2 separate regions of the Homo sapiens genome follow, and region 1 is linked to region 2. The links come from fine-mapping of genetic effects on plasma protein levels. A gene starts in region 2. The other region holds a variant in brackets. All regions are shown on one strand. Distances are from middle to middle. Region 1 overlaps LOC100130207 (a long non-coding RNA gene). Region 2 holds the start of LRRN1 (leucine rich repeat neuronal 1).

What was found. A credible set is the group of variants that fine-mapping cannot tell apart. PIP is the chance, under the fine-mapping model, that this variant and not a neighbour inherited with it causes the effect. Sun 2018 read protein levels with aptamers (SomaScan).
Region 1: its variant is the best candidate, but not a certain one, in a credible set for the plasma level of the LRRN1 protein (Sun 2018, PIP 0.50).

What each region holds. Positions count from the first base shown.
Region 1 is chr3:3,762,211-3,770,777 of GRCh38, forward strand. The region is part of intron 5 of LOC100130207 (a long non-coding RNA gene); the gene reads right to left. Among named protein-coding and RNA genes, the nearest start is that of LRRN1, 33 kb to the right of the region's middle. The variant T/C (reference allele first, on the strand shown) is at 3,698.
Region 2 is chr3:3,795,482-3,803,948 of GRCh38, forward strand. LRRN1 (leucine rich repeat neuronal 1) reads left to right here and starts at 3,950. Exons shown (of 2, transcript NM_020873.7): 1 at 3,950-4,438. It overlaps LOC100130207 (a long non-coding RNA gene), which reads right to left and starts at 5,394. Exons shown (of 6, transcript NR_149025.1): 1 at 5,220-5,394. RefSeq lists silencers at 3,851-3,920, 3,931-4,020, 4,161-4,270, 6,804-7,098.

The sequences.
Region 1 (8,567 bases), 33 kb before region 2:
GGTGGATAATCATACCAATAATGTCTTAAAACTGTGATAAAGAAAAAAGTACAAGATGCCATGAAAGTGTATACCAGAGGCTGCTTACCTTAACTTAGGGACTCAAAGCAGTTTTCCCTGGGGATGTAACATTAATTAATTAGGACCCACAGGGCACTGACCATCCCTTTCCAAATCCTGGTCTGCATCACTGTCTGTTCACTTGCCAACTGAACTAATAACGAAAGTTAACATAAACTGAGGACTTAGTATGTGCTCAGCTTTGTAGTAAGTGCTTTACACAAATCAATTATTTAAACTTCATACTAAATCTGTGTTAAACCTGGTGTTATTATTTTTCCAATTTCGTAGATGAGGAAGTAAGTGGAGGCATAGCAGGATTAAGTACTTGCCCAAAGCTGGAAAACTAAAGTCAAAAATCAAATCCAGATCTGCCTTCCTTGACATGTCATGCCCTTAACACTTGACTTTCTTGTAAAAGAGCCATTCCTTTTCTAAAGACATCAATCTAACTGTTAAATAGCTGCATAATAAACACATACACACACACACACACACACACACACACACGAACAGCTTTTCCCAAAAGAATAAATGTCAATATATCTTAACCCACTTTTCTCGTAACGAGTTGATCCAGCAATAACAAGAATATTCCTCGGGTAATGCCTTTTTATTAAGAACAAATATGAGTTACGAGACACGATACAGTATCCAATCTCAGAAAGCAATTTTCGAAGATTGAGTATCTCCACTTTATGCTGCAAAATAACGAACACATGGACACCCCAGAATGCTTATCCAACATAGCTTGCCACGTTAGCATTTAAAATAGGCAAACATGTGCTGGGAGATATAAAGAAATGTAACTATACAGATGATTTCTTCCCTGTTTAGCTCAACATTGATCATTTGCTGTTAAGTAAACACTTTAACTTAAAAGTAGTCAATGAGAATTTGGATCTTTCTGAAGGAGTCACACATCAAAAGCTTACAATGGGGAGGTGAGAAAAGGCAGTGGAATGTCTAGTCCTGCTGAAAGGCTGAGAAAAATCCTTTCAGAATAAGTCATCTACTCCCAGCTACTCAGGAGGCTGAAGCAGGAGAATGGCATGGACCCAAGAGGCAGAGCTTGCAGTGAGCTGAGATCACGCCACTGCACTCCAGCCTGGGCGACAGAGCGAGACTCCGTCTCAAAAAAACAAAAAACAAAAAAAAAAAAGAATAAGTCATCTACATAAGCAGGGAAGATCACTTGATATGCACTGGCTTTATGAAATATGGGAATTGCCCCCCTTTCTGCAAGTAAAATAAGAGGAAATATTTCCCCCCTTATCCAAGTGCAAGAAAGATCATTTCCATTAACATTAGGAATATAAAAAGATTTTCTTCCTAGCTTGCTCTCCAGCAACAAGATCTCATGGACTTTCTTAACCATTTGACACTTAACACCGTTGTAAATAGTGCTTCCTGTGAAGGTTTGTAATGCAGCCTGACTCCCAATCCTTAAACATCCTGCTGTGCAGAGGGAATAGCCAAAGCCAGAAAACCCTAGAACTATTTTTCCTCTCTCCTTCAAAGCCACCAAAACCTGGTAGAAGCATGAGTTTCTTCTCCTCTACCTTTTGGACTTGGGAAATCTGGACCTATTGACATGAGATAACATGTACACATTCTGCCTAAATGTAATGAATGTTTCAAAGGTTTCACAGAAAGCTCAAGCAATGCAACAGAATGGATCTTTTATGGGGTTTTTTTTTTTTTTTTTTTGCATTTTGAGAGGGTAGGTGAGGAAAACATGTTTTTCAAGCTCTGTGATGTTGCTTGATAAATCACAGCAATATTTCTGAAGCGTATTTAATTACAAATTGGCTTGAGTTTTCAAAAGGACAGGGCTTACAGATAGATATGTCCTGAATATGAAACATTACTATACTAATGATGCATTAAATTATTTTATAAAACAAAAACCCGAGAGTACATAAAAATGTATCCACAGCTCATCATATACGCTATGTGAAAGAGAGAGGCTCTTGGCTAAATTTCAAATGCCTATGAGCACAAGAAAATGGAACCGTCTAACTAAGCCTTATGTTTTCATTCCCTCATCCCACAAATATTTAGCAAGGGTTTACTATGGACGACACTATTCTAGGTACTGAGGATACAACAGTGAGTGAAATAAAGTCTTCTTCTCCAGGGACAGAGGTTCTATTTGGGGAAACATGATAAAAAACAAAACAATGTGCAATAAAATGTTAAGGAGGGATTTGGTCTCTGCAGATGAGTTTTGCAACAAAAGAGGGCAGGATGGAAGGTGGCTAGGAAGGGTGATCGAAGGAAGGTCTTATGAAATGGTTTGCCAATGTCATACCTCCTATCAAGAGGTGGTGAAATCCAGAAAATGTCTTGAGTTAGATGGCCAGGAGATATGGACCCTCACTATACCCTTCTCACCAAGGGCTCGTTTTTGTTAGGGACACTTATATTCAAGATCTTAGGCAAGCCCAGAAAACTAAGAAGACTTGAGATATTAAATAATTGGAAAGAGATCTCTCAACACTGTTTGCTCGAAGGCCAGGTCTTTTGCTTTATTGGGAAGCAGGAAAGAACAAGGACATTGGAAGCAGAAAGACCTAAGTTCAAATTCTAGTTCAACGTCTTGTCTGTGTGACCTCTGGTAAGCTGCTTTATCACCTTTCTCACTCCAACTCAGTATCTTCATCCATCAACTAGAAATCTATAACTGCCTCAGGAATTTCCGTGAAGATTAAGTCTGATCATGCATGCAAAATTAACTCAACGCTTGGCACATGGTGAACACTCAATAAGTGGGATATGGCATTATTGTAGGAGATAACAAATAACACAATGCTAATACCTTTAAAACAAAGCCAACAAGACTTTTTACTTTCTCAAGATGCCCTTTCTCTTTTCCAGGTGAAACGATCTTATTATTGTAAATTGCTCTCTTTAGGCTAAATGGAACCTGTCATGTTATAGATTGGTCCACTAAATATTTTCATTTTAAAAATAATAGAAGTAATTTGCAGCTATTCAGATAAGCTGAAGGAAAAAAAATCTACTGAAAACTAATGCAAGTCATTCAGTGACTGGGTACAAATGATTTATAATTTCAGGGGCCAGGTTTTCCCGGGTTTGGACTCACATGAAGACCGGTCATGGAGAGAGAGGAGACTTGGGTACTGAGTGGGTGTGTTTATGTGCATTTGATTGATTGTATTCTAAATATAAATATTAAAATAAACTTGAACTTTGATTACTTCACGGATTATTATTACACAGAACTCTCTGCTAAAGCCGGCAGAGAGACTTAAGTGCTGACTTGAAATATATTTCTAGGTATATTTATATACTACTCAGAAACAAAAAGGAAATAAATATTTTTAAAGCTTTGCAAGAAAACAACATGCAGCAAAGAGATTAGCCATTTGGTGACCAAAGGCTCAGCCAGGGGAAAGCGTATGTCAGGAATGTAGACAGTATGCGACGGACAGACATGGTGCTATTTGGAATAGGAGTTCCCAAGAAGGATCTCTTACATTTGATCCATGAAGCAACAGGTGTTCTTGGAAATAGGATCCTAGGTTTGGCTCAGACCACAACCTCTGTCAAAATGAGAACAAAGGATTGGAAAAATCACCACCACACTGACAATTCCCATTAACCTCTGGCA[T/C]GGAACGACACACTCTTATCTGCCCACAACTGCTGCCCAGTCTGCAGCCTGAAGCTTGTCTCCATTTACAGGCTGTGGAATTACCCTAGCCTCTGAAAATTCACCAAGAGCAAATACTGCTGCAACCTGCACTTCTTTGGTGACTAAGACCCCCCTAAGGCTCAGAGGGAAGGCTTGCAGATATATGTTTATCTTGATGAGCACATATCACATTGCCTGGGCTTTTCAATCCAGGCCAGTAATTGTCCCTCTTTGTTTGGAAAATGCACAGGGATCGAATATCCATCAGTCTAAGGCAGTATATAGGGGAAAGAGGAGGAAGGAGCAGGGCAGAAGTTGTTGCCACACACCCATGGCCATGCTACTTTCTCAGCTAAAAATGTGGGGGTGTGTAGTATAGCAGTGACATCCTGGAAGAGGCTTCTAAAGAAGGAAAGGCTAATACAGGACACTGCCCAACCCCTAACCCAGGACACACATCCCAAATTGGTGCAGACTTTTTCTTGGCTGTCCATAAATAGCCAATCTCAATGCAGCCATCCAGGCAGTCATTTCCAACTCATCAGACCTGGTATATAAGAAGAAATCTGCTTCATGTATTTCTGCATAAGGACATAGTATAATCTTTCCCCTGTAGGAGATGAAAACCTAAAACAACCTCAAGCTTAGGGATTTTAACACCATTCATTCCTGGCTAGATTTTGACCCACATGGCACCATTCTAGAAACCACATAGTCCATAAAGGAAAATGTTATTGCAAAGTAGCAAATGTGAAGGCTTGAAATGTCAAGTGGATTTAAAGAAAAACTGTACTTCTAAATGGTAACAGGTGGCCTTTACTTTTCACACTCATTTTAAGAGAGAAGATCACAGAGCAGAACACGCTCTTCCTGTCAAGGTGAAGATGGATAATCAGGCAGGAGGTGAAAATTAAGTCCAACATAAGGATGTTACAAGTCAAAACATTTGAAAAGGTTATAAAAATTTGTTTTCCATGATACTCAGTGGTTTTGAATCCTTTTGTGGAAGGATAGTATGTGGAATTTGTTGTGTCTTTTCAACTATGATCTGTCCTTCAAGTAGAAAAAAATGGGTTTTGCAGAGAAGGCCAAGTTGTATTTCAAGAGGGAAAAAAAAAAGACAGTAGAGAATGATTGACAAATAAATACTTTGGTGACAAATACTTGCATGTGTCTTCTCTACAGTGTCATCCAACTCTATAAACAAAGTTGAGTCTATCCACATTTAATCAATTCACAGGTGACTTCCTACCTGGAAGAGAACTAAGCCTGGCAGCCAGCAAGAGGCTCACTGTGAAACCAAGGTCTTTTAGTTTTGTACACAAACCATTGTGTCGTAGCTCCTTATTGGCTGTGTTTTCAATTCTTCAAATCTAGCCGGTTTGCATAAGCAAACAATATTTCCACTCCACCATTTGATGAACTAATGTCTTGTGCTACCAAAATAGAGAACTTTAAGATGGAAAACCTCTATGGAGGCCTCTAAGCCATCTTCCTGCCAAAGTGGCATTGTTGCATGGCATGTGTTTTCTAGTACTTTACTTAATCCCATTTTAAATATACCAAGCAAAGAGCCTTTCACTGCATAAGCACTCTTCACCATCCAAGAGCTTTCCTTCCTTATACTAAACGTACACTGAACTAAGTTCAAACCATTATTTCTTTTTACTGTTCCCCTCCAGCACCCTATTTTGTCCCCAGTAACAATTGTTATGGAGAGAGAGGAAAAAAAAGAGTGGACAGAGAATTGATTGTCAGAAGCCTTCAAAAAGAAAACAAAGAGTTGAAGAACTAGCTTTTAATTCTGCTACAGAATGAAGAATGCACGAAGCACTTTATGAGTTAGTTGATTCCCTGCAGTAGCAGATGAATTTTCTACTCAGTACCCCTAGTTTTTTAAATGCCTTTTATGCTTTCTTCATTCCCACATGTTATGTCTCACCCTACTACATCCTTTGGGTGTTGATTTCCACAGCTGAGTTAATGCAAGATGAAAGAGTTGCAGAAATTCTGAAAGAGGAAGATCTATTACACCCATTTAATGGGAATAATGTGTTTTTTTTTTTCTGCCAGAAACTCCTAGAGGAATACATTCATCTTTAGCTAATCCTTTTAATCATTTTAAAACAGATTTCCTATTATTTTATTGTATAATGAAATCCTTTACACAGTTGATCTACTAAAATGAATTCACAAGTTAGGCAAAACGATGTTTAGATTTTGACATTCCAATGATAATAAACAAATTAATCTTAAATGATAAAATCACTGATTAGAGTCATATGATACAATGATTTCTAAGGTCCAGAGAGGTCACTCAAAATTCTAAGATCTTTTTTAAAAATTGCATAACAATTTTCAATTCAAAAAGTAAGGAGATGTGATGGGACTGACTGTCAGAGAGGCCAGTCATTCCTCCTATACATAAAGGAGGATATATAATGGTCCCATGTATCATAATTTATGCCTGGAGAAACCCCCAGAATTTTTCACATTTCTCCTTTTCATTTCATACTATTTCATAAGTATGTTTCATCAGTTTTCATAAAGTCCTGTTTTCTTTTAACGACATGTGAATGCATTTGTGGGAGCATACAAAAACTCTAAGAATAATAATAAATGAGATTTAGTAGGCATTTACTTTAATCCAACAACTAGTGTAAGCTCTGTAGGTAATAACACATTTCACCCTAACAAAATAGTGATGGGTTTTATATTAAGGCCATTTTAAAAATGAAGAAACTGAGGTAAAAAAGTTAAGTTACTTCTCTAACTTTATTCAGTTAAAACCAGTGTGTCCAGAACCTATATGCCCAACCATCATATTTCATTGCATCCCTCAAAAGAGCACCCTAAGCTGATGCCATCTACTACTCCACAGTTTTTTCTCTCAACCTTGATTGAACATTAAGAAACAAAAACTTAGTAGCAATTATCTGAGTTGTTTGCCTTCAAAAGTTGCTAAAAAGAAATACTCAGAAATTTTCTGAGGCCAGAGGACCACTTCAAAACAGCTATACTTGTTGAATGTTGTTTCACTCCAACTAAAATTATATATTGTCTCAAAATGGTGTGCTCGGAAATAATTGGCACCATCTTGCCCATTTCTGAGATCAGGTCAAGGCAGTATTCTAAAGAGTGGTCGGCAGCCATCTTATACTAACATTCATCCTGGAGAGGATTAAAACATCAACAAGATGTAATTGCTTTATTGACGCACCCCTCATTCCACGGAACCCTCACCACCACACTGAGGTGTAGAGAAGCACTTCCCTAGATGAAATGGAAGACACAGAGTTTGAACCAAGGTCTGTATGACTCCAAAAATTTCTCTTTTGACTCTGCTATACTCACAGACAGCATGAAGAGAACTTCTAAGCTTCTGGAGCAAGGGAAGAGCTTAGATACAGTTTATCTTCATTTTGCAAGAATTAAAAACAATCTCCGATATCAACCCTTTTCCATCTCTATTCTCTCTTTTGGTTATACTTCTTCCAGATAATCCATTCCCAAAAATATGACACCCATAAATCCCTCTCTTCTCTGAATTCCTACAGAATATACATGCCACCACAATTTTCTCAGTCATTACAGGAAACTTGTATGTTTACTGAATAGTTCCATGCATGTTCCCTCCCTATAAACATTTCAAAGGGTTTCTCTTATATTCTGAATAGATTGCTTATGATTATGAGATTTTAGAACAAGAAGGAACTCGTGGACAGCATCTGGTAGAAACCAATTATTTTTACCAAGGAATAAAACTAGTGTTAAGAGAGGTTAAACAGCCCATCTCAGGTCACACAGCTAGTTAAGAAGCAAATTAACACCAGTATTTAGAGGTTTTTACTCCTGATCCAGAGCTCTTAACCCCATATCCAATTTTTCAGCTGAAGAGAAGCCTCACAGGAGATTATACAGAAATATCTGGCTGCTTCCATGTGTTCATATTCACATGCTCAAAAAAATTATACGCAGGACTAGGGGGTCTGAAAATAAAAAGACCATTAGTAATATTTAAGAATTTCAGTATATAGGAGATTTGACAAGGACTGGAGTCAGAAATGTGGGATAACAAACTTTAGCCAAGAATAGACGGCAGAAACCCCAGGACAGTATACATGATATTAAACCCATGCAAACCACAAGAACCAATGATCAAAAAATGATATATGGATATTTAGAAACAAATTTCTTCTCCACTGGATGCCAGTGTGAATTTACTGAGAATAAGTTGCCCTAAGCTAACCTCATTTCTTTCTTTATAATTTTATTACTGGTAATAATTAAAGCTACCATTTATAGGAGAATCTATTAGTAATGCCATGTGTGTATGTAATTGCTTTATTAGCGTACCCCTCATTCCACAGAACCCTCACCACCACACTGAGGTGTAGAGAAGCCCTTCCCTAGATGAAGTGGAAGACACAGAGTTTGAACTCTGCTCTGACTCCAAAAATTTCTCTTTTGGCTCTGCTATATTCACCGAGAGCCTGAAGAGAACTTCTAAGCTTTTAGAGCAAAGGAAGGGCTTAGACACAGTTTATCTTAATTTTATAAAACATATGACAATCTTCTATAATCACGTATTGTTATGGATATTAGCATTTATTTAAAAAATCATTCCTAATGAATGTTACTTAATAGATTAATATTGAATTGGAGAGAAGTCTCTCGGATAGTGACACAAAGTTCTGTTTAGGGATCACTGCTCTTAAACATTTGATCAATACATCAGATTAAAATGCAGAACACATGTCTGCAAAACAAACAAACAAACAAACAAAAAAATCTTTAGAACAGACAACTCTAAGAAAGACAGCAGTATAATGGCCAAGAAAATAAAGTT
Region 2 (8,467 bases):
ACCCAAATCTCATCTTGAATTGTAGCTCCTATAATCCCCACATGTCGTGGGAGGGACCCAGTGGGAGGTAATTGCATCACGAGGGTGAGTTTTTCCTGTGCTGTTCTCATGATAGTGAATAAGTCTCAAGATCTGATGGTTTTCTAAGGGGCAGTTCTCCTGCACATGGTCTCTTGCCTGCTGCCATGTAAGATGTGCCTGTGTTCCTCCTTTGCCTTCTGCCATGATTGTGAGGCCTCCCTAGCCATGGGAACTATGAGTCCATTAAATCTCTTTTTCTTTATAAATTACCCAGTCTTGGGTATTTCTTCATAGCAGTATGAAAATGGACCAATACAATGACTGTCAACATCTCTGCAACAACTAAGTTCTACAAGTGGAAACAGGACCCTTTATTCAGTCAGGAATAAAACATTATTTGATATATCTGCAAAGCTGCAACTCAACTAAAATTGTAACAGCACCATAAACCTATTAATGTTAGTTCTATTTAGAACCGCCCACCATCTTGGTTTATCCAAGACTAAGGTGTGACCTGAGATGTTGAGATTTTTAGGACTAAAACCTGGAGATTCCCAGGCAAACTAAGATGGTTGGTCACTTTAGTTCTATGTCAAATTTTTAAGCTTAAATGCAAAAACTAGTTTTAATTACAGAAACGTCAATTAATCCCTTTTTTGTGTTGGGATGTTTCATATGCAGTAAACAAACAAACAAACAAACAAAACCCGAGAAGAACAGGAACTACGTATATGTAGTAAACCCACTCATTGTCAAAAATTCTTAGAGAAACAATACATTTGGTATGAAAGTTAACAATGATCACAATAGTCACAAAATTTTAAGCTACAGTCATCACCCTCTAAGAGCTTGGTGGTGGTTGTTTTAAAATCATAATTTCAGTTCAGAAATTGGAAAGAACTCTGACTACCGGTACTCTATTAATATTTCAATTAGAGAGAGACATATTTTCAACTTTGAAAAATTGCAGTTTTAAGAGGCATATGATAATTTTCTTTTCAAAATACAGATGTTCTTCTAAAGATTATTCAAATACGACTGTCTTCTGAAGTTTCATCTTTCTTTTTTTTCCTCATTTACCACATAGATCAGTACAATTAGGCTAACACCAATGATAATGTTCCTTCAAACCAAAGCTAAAGAACCTCAAGGGGCTGGTAGGGGAATCCAGAGGGGTTTGTAGTGTCTCAACACAGCCAATCGAGGGGCAAGAACTCTTTACATCAACAATAAGACCTTGCTCTCCTGGGAACTCTTGGGCTCTTGTCTCCAATTCCGTTCTCCTTCAAAAATTCCAAGGTCTTCTACCACACCTTAATAAATAACTATTAAGTGCTTTTTTACTAACTAATAAATTCAGGATCCCAGGACTGGGTGAGCTCATTAGGAGTAATTCAGATGGATTTGAGCTCTTTAAGCAAGAAGCAAGTAAGAGATTTGGTTATGCTGGTTCATTGATTCCTCTTCGTCCAATGATGCAAAAATGCGTGTTTCCTCTTCATCCATCCCAATGACAAGGAGCTTTTAAGTGTCAGTTAACAAGACAGTCCCGAAACCCCTTTGCAGAGTTAAAAAAGGGTAATTTCTAAAATTTGGACCAATTACCAATTCAGGCAATTCAGCAAATTTCTAATAATTACACCACATTTCAGACTCTTTCATAATTGTCATGCTCATTTTTCCTCTTCTGTCCACAGCAAGCCCCATCCTCTCACCCAAATTCCTTCCCCCATCCCTGACACACATTTCTTCCTAATGATAATGCTCTTCTCTCTGTCTGGAACCAAATGCATGCAGTGGTCAAGTAGAAATGGGAAAAGCTGCCTTTCTCACTCTTGCCTTGGGGAAGAGGGAAATTAGTTTAAATAAATGATATGCTAATTTGAAAAGAAATGAATCGAACAGTGGAGAGACAGAGTCCATTTCCTCCACTGGAGCAGCTAGTGCCTTTGAGATATTCTGTCACATGCGGAATCATTATCCCACCTGTCTGAATTGATGTCTTGTTTTAGTCTTCAATACCTGCCTAATAATGCCTAGAGCTTACATCTGTCGTTGAATGCTTACTATATACTAAGCACTGTCCTAAGCATTTTACATGTTTACTCCCACTTAACCATCACAATCCTTTGGGATAAGTACTGATATTAACCCTACTTTAGAGCCAAGGAAATTAAGCCTTAAAGAGATAAAGTGACTTGCCATTAGGGACACAGCTCATAAATTGCAGGGCTGGGACCTAAGCAGTGTTGGCCTGGTTTCAAAATTCACACCTTGGTCCCTGACTCACACCATTCTCATGAAGTCTCTTCCAAAACCTGGAGGCTGTTCTAGATCTGGCCTCCCAAGAGCAACTCTCACCATCATTAATTGCTCCGACTGCTCCTCCAAGACCTACCTCTGTAAAGCTCCTCCTTGAAGGGCACAACCTCATCTCTCTTCCACTCCCAGGAAGGCAGGCTGGAAACCTAATAGAGACTCCCTAAGAAACCTGCATTCTATCTTTCCCTGACCATTCAATTTCCGTACTTCCACCAGAGCCCAACTTCTATCAGACAAACTCCATGCTATCTGCATGCTAACTCCATGGATAATCTGCATGAAAAGGGGGGAAAGAGACAAAATCATGTTACAAAACTTGGGCAAGGGTCTAGACTCAACTTGCTTTGAAAGATCTTAAATCTTCCCATTCATTTGTAGACAGCAGTGGGCCTTTTTCTTCCTCTGCTCTGCACGACCTTCTAGCCCAAGTGCTAGTATCACCTTTTCCTAAAGACTTTTAAGACAAACTGTGACCATTTATGTCTACATGACACAGTTTCAGGATAACAAAGTGTGAAGACACACAAAGACGTCAAACATTTATCAGAGACCTAAGCGAAACGCCAATAAATGTTACAGGGATCAAGAATATGGTTACTGACATTGAATGTATCCTGTGGCTTTGAAGAATCCAAAGGATGATTCTCGAATAATGTATCCTTCCAAATTCTCCAGAAGTTCTAAGTTTAGACATCATAATGAAATGTCACCACGTTCCTCTGCCAGAAGTTGTTCAGTACTGAGGGGCTAATGATGCTTTCGCTTAAAGCCGATTCCCCCAATAAAGGGTGCCAAGGCTTTTCTGAAGCCCTGCTTCCGGCTGGCGACTTTGAAGCTGAGACGCAGGTTCACGCGCAGTTTCCGAAGACCTATTCCGTCCCCACCCTCCTCCCCTTCCTCGGAGACACCTCCACTTAACACTGCCTTCTCAGTCCCTCGCCGCCTGTTTAAACACAACTTCCACCCCTCACAAATCAGAAAGCTGTAATTTCAAAGTTTCAGAAACGTTTTCGGAAAGCCTCCTCCAATGGGAAGCGACTTCGCCGCTGAGTTAAGCGTCCGAATCCTCCTTCCCGCGGCAGGGACACCGGCCCGGGCCAGGTCTGCGGAGGACGCCCCCGGGCGCGCACACACAGCCCGAGGACGCGCCCTGTATTTTAAGACGCAGGGTCGGATTTCACCCCGAAACTTGGCTCCCACAGCCCCAGGCCGAACTGTGTCTGGTTCTCAGCCCCCGAGCCCGAGTTCTACGCCGCAAAGAGATGGGGCCCCATTGTGCCTAGCTGGCCTCCTAGCACGGACGTGTATTTTCTTTTGGTCTGTCTTTTGCTAAAAACCGGCAGTGCGCTTCGCCTCCCTGCCCAGCCGCAGCCTGCCGTCCCCTAGACAAAAAGCGGCGACCGCGGCCCGGCCACCCGAGCCCCGCCGCGCTGCGCCTTTGTTGGGCGGTCCACAGATGGTGCCCAGCACGGGGCCGCGCCGAGGGCGGGGGCGGGAGGCCGCGAAGAGGGTCGGGCGGGAGGGGAGGAGACGGCGGAGCAGCCAATCCGCGCGCGGCCCATCAGCTGACCGCCTTTGCTTACACCAGGTGCACGCCGGCTGCGGGGAGCACAAAGCGGGGCGCACCGCGGGCGCCGGCAACGAGCCGGTGAACGAGGCGAGGCCCGTGCGCCCGCGGCTGCAAGCGCCCGCCTGGCGGGGAGAGGGGCCGACGGCGTCAGCCCGGGCGGCGGCATCCCTAGGCGCCTGGGGCGCCTTCCTCCGGACCTGGCCGCTCGCTGCCCCGCCCTCTGCACCCCACTTCTCCGACCCTCCTTCCCAGTCCTGCCTCCCCCTGCCCTGGCCTCTGAGAGCCGACTGAGCCCAGCCCCGTGCAGCAGCGGTTGCCTGTGTCGCCGCCTAGTCTCCGGTCTTGGTGCTCTCCCGGGGGTGCCCCAAGGAGCCAGTGCGCGCTGCGGGCTGGGAAGGAGGCGCCGCTCAGCTAGTCCTCCTCCTCCTCCTCGTCTTTCTCCTCCTCCTGCTGCTGCTGCCGCCGCCGCCGCCGTGGGTGCCGGGTCCGCGCGCACCCCAACACCCCCACCAGCTGGGCCTCGGGGTAAGTCCCTGGCCGGCCGCGCCGCGGCAGGAGGTGTGGGAGGCAGCGAGGGGAAGTCGAGGCAAACTTGGTGGCGTGGGAGACCCTACGGGGTCTGGGGAACCTCAGGGTAAGATCGCGGGCCTGAGGGGGACGAGGGGGCGCGGCTCACGGAGCTGGGGAAAATGACGAAGTCGGGAAACGAGAATATAGTGCCCCGTTTCCCCCCGTCCCCCTTGCCAAAAAAAAAAAAAAAAAGGTGTGGGAGAGCGATAGTTGGGAAGGCAGGCCAGATAGAAACAGGCAAAAAAAGGCAGTGACCGGAGCCGAGCCTGCTGGATTTCAGGGGCCGACCAGGGGAGGGAGGTGCCCGGGGACGGGGAGGGAGGAGGGCTGCCGGGATGTGAACCGGGGAAGGCAGCTGGGGCTGGAGAGCAGCGCGGAAAGGGGGCCCAGGGAGCTGGAAAGAGGGCCAAGAGGAGGGCAAGGAAGGTGGCGGGCGACGGGGAGAGGAAAGAAAAAGGGTGTCTTGGCGGTGGCCTTGGTAAGAGAAAGGGGCAAGGGGTATAATTGACAAGGCACTGAAAGTATTGAAGTCAGAGCCTTGGGAAGGATCTACCGAACTCTCGGCGGTCCACGCGGGGACAGACCTCAGCCCGTGAGCCTTGAGCTCCACGCGGGGACAGACCTCAGCCCGTGAGCCTTGAGCTCCACGCGGGGACAGACCTCAGCCCGTGAGCCTTGAGCTCCACGCGGGGACAGACCTCAGCCCGTGAGCCTTGAGCTCCACGCGGGGACAGACCTCAGCCCGTGAGCCTTGAGCTCCACGCGGGGACAGACCTCAGCCCGTGAGCCTTGAGCCCAGAAGGAGTGGCAGCCTCAGGACGTTTGCCAGGTGGCCTGGAATGTGAGGGAAGCCTCAGCCCCGCCAGGAACAGAGCTGGCGCTGAGTTCCCGGCTCGGCCCGGGTCAGAAGCGAGGAAAGTTTGCCGGCGAGTGTCCTTTGTGCTGCGTGGAGAGGGGTGTGGGCGGCCGCCGACTCGGCGCTTCCCCGCCGCCCGCCCAGGGAGTCCCTGCCTGGCAAGCTGGGGCTCGGGGAAAAGTCCAGCAGCGAGAGGGCCGCGTGTCCCGGGACGGTTCCAGGGGAGCCCGCGCGGAAACGCGGACCAGGCGCTTCGGCCCGGATGCCGGATCCAGGAGAAGGGGACCTCGCTTGCCGTGTCCACCGCCGCGGCCCCAGCGCCAAGAACAGAGCCTGGCCGTGAGTGAACGACTGGCCGGGGTACAAATGGTTCTGAAGCACTTGAAGCTCACAGGCAAAGGCTAAGAGTCTAAATCCCATCCCGCCGTAAGTATTTTCATTCCCAAACCTAAATCGTAAAGGAAAAGTGGAATTCTAATTGGGTGAGGGAACAGGTGCTGCCGACTCTGGCTTTTGCGTGGAGGATTTTCTAAAAGACAACATGTTTTGTTTTGTCTTGCCATGACAATCTAAATCATGTTAGTGGAATAGGCTCATTATTTCATTTTTAAAAGCTAGGGCTGGAGGAGTGGAAAGTTCAGGAAGGCACTTTGATCAGTATAAATCTAGAGTAAAAGTGTTATTGGCTCCAGGGCCATATGTGTCCCGAAGTCTCTGATTTGCATGCAAATGTGAGCGGATCCTGGCAGATGTCTGGCCTCATCCATTCACATGAAGGAATTTGAAAAGACAAGGAGTCTTCAGTTAACAATAGACCTTAAGAAAAGAGAATAAAGACGCAGTGTGAGTTTTTCTGTTTGGGAATTCCATGGTTTGCTGACACCTTTATTCAGGAGCCAAATTCTTTAAGTGCTATTGTATTGAAAGCTCAAAGTGCTGCTTGCTCTTTACCTGGCTGTATATATTCGTGCAATATTCAAGCTGGATATTCTAAGCTAGTTAGGAAAAGGTTTGTGTGAAGCAGACAGTAACTTTAACCCACTTCTGGCGGCTTGAAGTGATTTCTGAATTGACCCCTCAACTTTTCGAGTTTTCTTTTAATAATTTGACTCTTGCTCAAATTTGGTCCTCATCTTCAGAGCTATTCATTATAGTAGAAGATCGTTGTCGTTGACCGACATGAAGATTTCCTGAGAATGTCCACTGTCTAGCTGAGAATGTCCACTGTCTAGCCAAAGTCATTTCGGTTCTTAAGGCACCAAACTGTAGAACTGCAGGTGATGCAACTGTCCCAACCCTAGTTACCCGAGTGGTTTTCAGGTCACATAACAGTGAACGGGGAGGTAGTCGTGCAGTAGACTCTGGAGCAAGGGCCTTTCTGCCGTGTCTAACATTAGCTGCGTGACCACACTGCACTGTTCACCTCTTGGCGTTGTGCGACAGCTGAACAAAAGGCAGGCAGTGTGGGCCGCACGTGAGGCAGGCGATTATATTAATACCTACGACTAACCAGCCCCAGTGGCCTCTTCTTTTGTCAACCTCAAACACTGTTGAAGGGAAAAAGAACCTATTCACGGAACAGCATTTGCCCCAGTATTCTATATATTCACTGAAAGGGACATTAAAATACAACACCCCCCCAACCCCCGCCAGAAAAAAAAGACAACATTGTTTTGGAGGGCTCAGTGTTTCGGGGGAGGGGTGGACAACAGATGTTAGTCTGCTATTTTACATGTTCCTTTAAGTTATTTTTGCAGGTTCAGTGCCTTTTATACATAAGGCAATATTTTCACAGGATGGGGAAAAATGAATTGAATCAAATTTAAGTAAGAAAATGTTATAGCCAAGTTTGCATTTTGTGTCTTAGAGCTATATAGAAGTCAGAAAGTAACAAATCATTCTAATAAACTCTTAATTTGACTCTACACGCCTGATGTCTTCCTGATAGAGTTGAAGGGTAACTTAAAATAAACTTGACATTTCTAGACTATAAACCATTTTGTTGTAAAGTTATCTAGATATTTTTGAAACCTGGTAAGTTAAAAATGACCCTCACATTTGTGAAACCTTATCTTTGGCAATTAACCTGCCTGTGTAATCGTTATTCTGCAAGTCTAATGAAAGGACAGATTAGAACTCATTCCTTGGTAAATAAAACTGATAAAGTGTTTAATTATTAGAAAAGGATCATTCTGCTAAATAAAAGATCTCAAGACCAGATCCAACTGCAGACTGTGTTTCTAAAACATAACCTCAGCTAGCTCTGGTTAATGTCTGAAATTCTGGGAAAGCAAGGAAAAACTCAACCATTGATCTCTCTCTGGTTAGTCTGTGCTAAGGCCACCTTCTTGATCTAAACTGCTAGAGCCATTACCACATATTCTAAAGCAGTGACACTCATGGGAATATACTAGGTACTAAAGAAAATCGGTCTCTACGGAGTTATATTGCTACTTCCCAAGCCAGTGGAATATAAATAATAATGATAAATAATCAGAATGGTGGGCTTTTTATACCACCATAAGTAGGCCATAAGTCATAAATAAAATATGGTAAATTATAGGATGCAGATGCCAGTTTTACGAGACTTGCACAATGCTTACTTAAAATTTATTTTTAAGTTACAAAATAATAGTTCCCCGAATGATTCATTTCAGCACTAATGTCAGGTTATTCAAATATTGTATTTAATTTTAAAAAATTATGCTGAACATCTGTTTTGGGTTAAGCCAATCTGGAGATAAAGCAAATTCCATTGTAGAATCATATGATCATTTAGAATCATATGTTTCTGGGAACAATGAAAGTATCTTTAACTCATGAATAGAGCTCTGATTAATATTTAATTCAGGATGAAATTATATGGATGAAGTCAGAAAAACATTTATTCTCTCTTGTTTTGGCTCAAAGTACAGAATAGAGATAAAAGTTAAACCCTATCTGTAAAATTCAATACTTTAGTGACCAAGGGATCCATTTGTTCTAAAGGTCTTTTTAGGTGAAGTTTGCTTTTTAATTTCTTGTTTTAGCATATATTAGCATTCACCTGCTTTACAGATCTGTTACAGAATGTAGCCTCCCGAGTTCTGAAACATAGATAAATGCATGATAAATGGTTTATTGACATT